Homo sapiens: one gene and its partner. The protein of the gene in region 1 purifies or fractionates together with the protein of each later gene. This does not show direct contact. Each region holds a gene or a part of one and is shown in the gene's direction. Other genes may lie near its edges. The genes, in order: SMPD3 and BRI3BP.

Region 1 (3,819 bases):
TGGGGGGCTCCCTCCTACCTTCAGAGTGTTGAGTTGATGTTCTTGTCTGAAGTTCTTTCAAGCTAGTTCAAGCCATGGAATTGCTGCTGTCTTCACCTCTATGGAAATGTTTAAAGAGGGCTTGAAGGTCTTTGTTCAAGTTTCTGACCAGTGGAAGGTGGGCATCAAACCCATTTATAAGGACAATGCATGGAAAACACTTATCAAGGCCAAAGAGATTTAGGCATCTCCTGTCTCTACCTCTACCTCTACTACTCTTTTCTCCTCTTTCCCTGTTCCACATTTATCCTCTTCTTTCTGTCATTATTAAATTAGTCAATAACATTTTTCAAAGGCAAGCCCTCTTTTCCTCAAAAACAATGTAGCCCAGAAAATGAAGGCTTCTGGAGGCTATTACCAAATGCAAAAAGCTGCAAATACGGCTTTCCAGGCCTAATGACAGAAGTGGGGGAGAGAGATAAGACATGCTCAGTCCTAAATACCCATCTGGTGACATGTGTCTCTTCTCCTGGAGTTACTCTGAAGGAATTTCTTGCAGTCACAAAATCCTAAGAGCTCTGCAGCTCTGCAAAGGAAAGAAGGTATTTTAATACCTGGTATTGTTCTTACTTTGGCATCCATGTGATTTGCATTGAACTATGTGACTCAGTATCATAAAGTAAAAATAGGACTTAATCTCTTCCTTGCCTGTTTGGAAGGTGACTGCATATGGTGTGTTGTATTCTGCATTGGAGAGTGAAAAGCTAAATTGCCTCATAAATTGAACCACCTGCTTATCCTGATTAGAATGGTGCTTAACATCACCTACAGGCAATAACGTTATTTTATGTTTCTTTTAATTTATACCTGTATCTTTGTCTTGTAAAACATTTCCTCATGCTCATACATTATTACTTTCACTTGAAGTTAATCAAGAATGTTTAATCCTTGTACTGAAGCCAAACAAATTAAATATCAGCAGATTCAGGAAGATGTGGGTGGTGTTTCTGTTCTTTTTGGGCTCAAAAAAAATTCTTGGAGTTCATAGAAAAGAAGGAAAAGGCCCTAAGATTTGGTAAATCTTGTGAGCAGTTCTGAGAGGCTCCTTAGAAATTTCCAGAAGGGCTGGTCATGTTGAAGAATCTGAACACGCATGCAAGTGGCAGCATGCATGCTGGAAATGAGACTGCAGCCCTGGTATTCCTAAATCACTGCACTAATGCAGCTTTTCTCGGAAAATTTCCCAAGACCCTCCTGCTCCCTGGGGCAGCCAGCTGGATCACTGTGGAGGAGAGCTGTCCAAGGTTCTGGAGTGCTGGCCTCACCCACCTGGTGGGAAGGGAGGACTTCTGGGTGTGGACCAGAAGCAAGAGCTGAGGGCCATGGCCTCCAAGAGGATTTCCCCAAAGCTGATTACAGAATGGAATAGGAGGAAACAGAGCTGTGGTGGATATTACTGCATTACTTCGAACAAACTCATCAGCAATCCCTGTTTAAAGAATTATGAGCTAATAAGAGGAAACATTTTCTGACTCAGGCTCTTCACATGTAAGAATGTATTTAATCCTCACAGTCCTGTGAGGTAGGTGGTGGCATAATTCCCACTTTCAAGGTGAGGAAACCAAGCTTTGAGGGCTTTCCCAAGGTTACACAGAAGGGGAAGAATTTAGGTTCCATCCTGGATCTCAAACTCTGGAAGTTCCTCCTTACCACTGTTTTTTCCCTATTGCTATTACAGAAATAAAACTGAACTATTGGATTATTCTATGTAAGTTTATAATCAAATGCCAGAGGAATAGGATTGCGGACCCACTAGGATTTAGACACAAATCAGTCTTTCCAAGTTCAGCAAGGATAGTGCCACCTACTTTATATCTTATCCAGCTTTGTTAACTGAACTTGGTTACCAAAGAATGGGGAAAGGGTAGTATAATGACCTTCATGACCAGTAGCCCAGGGGTTTCTTTCCACTGTGGAAAATTTTCACAGGAAGCCAAGCGTAGATGGCAACAAAGTGTTGTCATTGTTTTTCGTTTTTAAGAAAGGAAGGAAAAAAAACATGAGGAAGCTGTTATTTGACAAAGAGTACACATACAGCCAAAGAAATAGAGCTTATCTTTATTTCCTAGCAGCCTATTCCAAAGCTGAAGACACTCAGATATTGTTAAGAGATTCCTTCCACCTATTTGCACTCTCAGATTTTCATAGCAAAGCCTCTAACACCTAAATAAAATTTTCACTGTGTGGGCCTCAGCCAATCTCAGGAAAGCATCACATTCCTGTCCTTATGCCACCCAACCAAAGCTCTACCTCCATATGTGGCTGCAAGACTCCAGAAGGTGGGCAGGTTTGGGGTTTGGTGAATTTCAGACCACAAGTCTTGTCCTCCTAAAGTGGCAGTTCCAACTGCTCCAATCTTGCAACACACACAGGGGCCGGTTTCTGAGAACTCCCCATTCGATTTGGATGTCTAAAGAGGGTAGAAAGGAATGAACTTATGTTTTTTCTCCTCTCCCTGGGCCTCAGTCTGTACAACACTCAGATAAGGGGTTAGACTTTTAAGAAAAATTCTTCATATCAAGCTGAGTCTCCATTCCATTTTGAGTGATTCCTTCCCCTTCCAAGCTGGGGCTTCGCAGAGCTCTGATGAAAGGAGCAAAGGCTGCTACTGCTTTTCCCGAGGGCGCTTGGAAGCCAAGGACCCGGCACCCCATCTGGGTCTGCTCTGACTCATATGACTGCAGACAGATTTGATTGTTTTCTTATTTAGAGTCATTAATTAACTCTCCTCAGCATCAGAACAGCGTGTAATAAGAAGGAGGCCATTTGTGGGGGTCTCTAGGCAGCCACACCTAGGGCTGAGTACCACCTCCTTTGCACACAGGATCAGGAAATGGTTTCTAATCCTGGCTATAACCCTTTAGAAAGCTTAGATTGTTAAGATTTTAGGCCAATATGAGAAAGTGCAATTAATTGCTAAGGCTGTTGTGATCATTCTGGCAAGAACTGGGAGGCCCAGGAGTCCCTCAAAGGAGGACTGGATTTCCATTCATTCAACAGACATTTCTTGTGCCTACAAAAATGTGTCAGCCACAGCGCTGGGCACGGGGAACACAACCACAATGTGGGATAAGTCCTTTCTTATAGAAATCTTGAACGGAACAAGGAAACAGACACAGAAACCCTGAAATAATGTGTGCTGTAAGCAGAAAGAGCTTTAGAAATGGAAAGGATATTAATAATCATAAACCATCATGTCTTTTTAACATGAGGAAAGACAGCGAGGGAAGTTGAGGGCTGCTCTGGCCACAGCCCTGGTTAGTGGTTCTAAGATGGGGCTTAGAACCCAGATTTTTTAATGCCTAAAGCATGTTCTTTCCACTGTCCTAAACTGTTGCTCTGTTCATTTAATTACCCAAAGGATACATTTCCGTTAACATAGGCTTCTTTGATCCAATACCAATGCAAAACCCAAATTTTAAGTTGAAATAGCCCAGGCACGGTTGCTCATGCCTATAATCCCAACACTTTGGGAGGCTGAGGCAGGAGGCTTGCTTGAGGCCAAGAGTTCAAGACTAGCCTGGGTAACATAGTGAGACCCCGTCTCTATAAAAAATAAAAACATTAGCTAGGCATGGTGGTGAATGCCTGTAGTCCCAACTACTTGGGAGGCTGAGATGGGAGGATTGCTCGAGCCCAAGAGTTCAAGGCTGCAATGAGCTATGATTGTACCACCACACCCTAGCCTGGGCAACAGAGCAAGATTCTAAAATTTTTTTTAATTTAAAAAATTTTTAAAATAAAGTTGAAATAGAAACAAATAATAGAAAAAAATAGGAA
Region 2 (3,819 bases), on another chromosome or scaffold:
CAGGCGTAAGCCACCGTGCCCAGCCTGTTTTGTGAATTTTAAATAAAGGAAAACTGGGTCTGCCAGCAACTGTAGTTTTCAGCATGCCTGGGTTTACGAATTAGAGCCAAACCTGCTTTGTGAAGTTTAATGGTATTTAAAAAAACACCCCATAGTCTTTTTTTTTTTTTTTTTCCGAGATGGAGTATTGCTTTGTCGCCCAGGCTGGAATGCAGTGGTTCAGTCTTGGCTCATGGCAACCTCTGCCGCCCAGGTTCAAACAATTCTCCTGCCTCAGCCCCCTGAGTAGCTGGGATTACAGGCGTGTGTGCCACCATGCCTGGCTAATTTTTGTATTTTTAGTAGAGATGGGGTTTCACCATGTTGGCCAGGCTGGTTTCGAACTCCTGACCTCGTAATCCGCCCTCCTCAGCCTCCCAAAGTGCTATGATTAGAGGCTTGAGCCACCGTGCCCGGCCTCCCATATTCTAATCTAGGACTTGTCTGAAATACACCTATGACCATCCTGTTTGGAGCATGGGAACAGACATGAGTTTGAATCCTAGCTGTTTCTCACTCGCTCTGTGACCCTGAGCCAGTTGCTTTACTTCTCTTTTTTTTTTGCTTTACTTCTCTTTTTTTTTTTTTTTTTTTGAGATGCAGTCTCGCTTCTTCTCCCAGGCTGGAGTGCAATGGCGAGCTCTCGGCTTACTGCAACCTCCGCCTCCCGGATTCACGAAATTCTCCTGCTTCAGCCTCCCTAGTAGCTGGGGTTACAGGCAGATGCCACCACGACCAGCTAATTTTTGTATTTTTAGTAGAGACAGGGTTTCACTGTGTTGGCCAGGCTGGTCTCGATCTCATGACTTCAGGTGATCTGCCTGCCTCGGCCTCCCAAAGTGCCGGATTTACAGACGTGAACCACCGTGCACCACCCAGTTGCTTTACTTATCTGTGTCCCATTTGTTCAGAGGAGATAAATTGGGGAATTAAAGGAGATTGGTTGGGCTGCACAATGCCAGGGACTGAATAAGCATTTAGTAAATGGTAGAATATTTCTATATGAAGGGAATTTGTCTGGTAGGAGGTAATAGACTTGTTAATTCCTTTAAAAATTATTAAGTGATGCCCTGGCATGGTGGCTCACACCTGTAATCCCAGCACTTAGGGAGGCCAAGGTGGGCAGCTCATCTGAAGTCAGGAGCTCGAGACCAGCCTGGTCAACATGGCGAAACCCTGTCTCTACTAAAAATACAAAAATTAGGCCAGGTGTGGTGGCTCACGCCTGTAATCCTAGCACTTTGGGAGGCCAAGGTGGATGGATCACCTGAGGTCAGGAGTTCAAGACCAGCCTGACCAACATGGTGAAACCCTGTCTCTACCAAATACAAAAAATTAGCCAGGCGTGGTGATGCATGCCTGTAATCCCAGCTACTTGGGAGCCTGAGGCAGGAGAATCGCTTGAACCCGGGAGGCGGCCGTTGCAGTGAGCCAAGATTGCACCGTTGCGCGCGCCAGCCTGGGCAACGAGTGAAACTCCGTCTCAAAAAAAAAAAAAAAAAATTAGCTGGGCGTGGTGGTGCACGACTGTAATCCCAGCTACTTGGGAGGCTGAGGCAGGAGAATAGATTGAGCCCGGGAGGCTGACGTTGCGGTGAGGTTGAGTCGCCCCACTGCACTCAAGCCGGGGGAACAGAGACTCCGTCTCAAAAAAAATTATTAAGCAACTTATACACATGTGTTCATAGCAACACTTTTTACAATAGCTAAAAAGTGGAAATGTCCCAAATGTCTTATCAGCTGATGAAGGGATAAAATGTGATGTGTCTGTATAATGAAATATGATTCAGCCATAAAAAGGAATGAAGTATTGCTATATGCTACAACTTGGACGAACCTTGAATAAATGAGAGAAGCCAGTCACGAAAGGGCACACATTATATGATTCCATTTACAGCATATGAAATATCTGGAATAGGAAGATCCGTAGAGACAGAAAGCAGATGGGTGGTTGCCAGGGGCTGGGGGAGGGAGCAATGGGGGAATTACTGCTTAATTGATCTAGGGTTTCCTTTTGGGGTGATGACAGATTGTGGAACTAGATAATAATGGTTGCATGATATTGTGAACGTGCTCATGCCACTGAATTGTACACTTTAAAATGGTTAAAATGGCCAACTTTATGTGTATATGACTACAGTTTTTTAAAAAAATTGGCCTGGTGCAGTGGCTCACATCTGTAATCCCACCACTTTGGGAGGCCTAGGTGGGAGGATTGCTTGAGCCCAGGAGTTTGAGACCAGCCTGGGCAACATAGTGAGACCCCATCTCTACGAAAAACCAAAACCTTTGGCTAGGCATGGTGGCGCACACCTGTGGTCCCAGCTACTTGGGAGGTTGCATAGGGAGGATCGCTTGATCCTGGGAGGTTGAGACTACAGTGAGCTGTGATCACACCACTGTACTCCAGCCTCAGGGACAGCACAAAACTCTTTGTCTCCAAAAAAAACAAACAAATGAAAAATTTCAAGCACCTACTGTATGTGGAGAAAATGATTCCTCTCAGGCAGAATATAGCTGGACTGATGTGGTGGAAACATCCTGAATGCCAGGTCGAGAAACTAGTACTTTTTTCCCTTGCTCCTTGGTCGTAGTTGCATGGAATACAATTTCATGTAGTTCTGAAGGTTAAGAAACTAACTCCACTTCCCACTACCGACCCGTCTACCACCCCCTTCCCCGAAGCAGCCAGATATTCTGAACATGTATAAATATATGGATCTATAGATCTGCTCCCTATTGTTGGTTTTTGTTTATTTTGCACTATGCGCACTGTTTTGTATTTTTATTTTATTTTTCCCTGAAACAGAGTCTCCCTCTGTCGCCCAGGCTGGAGTGCAGTAGCTCAATCTTGGCTCACTGCAGTCTCTACCTCCCGGGCTCAAATGATCCTCCTGCATCAGCCTCTCAAGTAGCTGGGATTACAGGTCTGCACCGCCATGCCCTGCTAAGTTTTTTATTTTTTATTTTTATTTATTTATTTATTTATTTTTCTTGAGACGGAGTCTCCCTCTGTCGCCCAGGCTGGAGTGCAGTGGCGCAATTTCGGCTCACTGCAAGCTCCACCTCCTGGGTTCATGCCATTCTTCTGCTTCAGCCTCCCAAGTGGCTGGGACTACAGGCGCCTGCCACCATGCCCAGCTAATTTTTTTGTGTGTTTTTAGTAGAGACGGGGTTTCACTGTGTTCGCCAGGATGGTCTCGATTTCCTGACCTCGTGATCCGCCCGCCTCGGCCTCCCAAAGTGCTGGGATTACAGGTGTGAGACACCCGACCCAGCCTCATTAAACTTTTTGGCTTTATTATGTATGAGACAGATGGTCTTTTCATTTATTCAGAATCCATCGATATGTTCTGGGAACTGCCTTTTGGTTTTTCTTTTTTTTTTTTTTTTTTGCCGTTCTATTGAGCTGTTGGGTTCTTTTGTTTTTGCTTTTTTTTTTTTTTTGTAAAGAGGTTTGCATTTTTTGCTGTTTGCAAGAAAGTATTTTGAGCAAAATAACTTTGACACTTTCCAGTCCTTTTTCCCCTACCAACATTTTAACAGCTTTTTTGAGGTGTAATTGCACTACACCTCAATAGACTGTGCGTATTTAAAGTGTACAGGTTGACACCTTTTGACATACACACTTGTGAAAAATTACCACAGTTAAGATAAAGTTTCATATGATTTTTTTTTTTTTTTTTTTTTTTGAGAGGGAGTCTCGCTCTGCCACCCAGGCTGGAGTGCAGTGGCGCAATCTCGGCTCACTGCAAGCTCTGCCTCCCGGGTTCACACCTT

The links.
Region 2: the proteins of SMPD3 (region 1) and BRI3BP purify together in Homo sapiens (affinity purification with mass spectrometry; one large-scale study listed by BioGRID and IntAct). This does not show direct contact.

The regions. Positions count from the first base shown.
Region 1 is NC_000016.10:68,441,717-68,445,535, reverse strand, and holds part of SMPD3 (sphingomyelin phosphodiesterase 3), read left to right. Parts: intron 1-3,819. UniProt on the Homo sapiens protein: Catalyzes the hydrolysis of sphingomyelin to form ceramide and phosphocholine. Ceramide mediates numerous cellular functions, such as apoptosis and growth arrest, and is capable of regulating these 2 cellular events independently.
Region 2 is NC_000012.12:124,996,601-125,000,419, forward strand, and holds part of BRI3BP (BRI3-binding protein precursor), read left to right. Parts: intron 1-3,819. UniProt on the Homo sapiens protein: Involved in tumorigenesis and may function by stabilizing p53/TP53.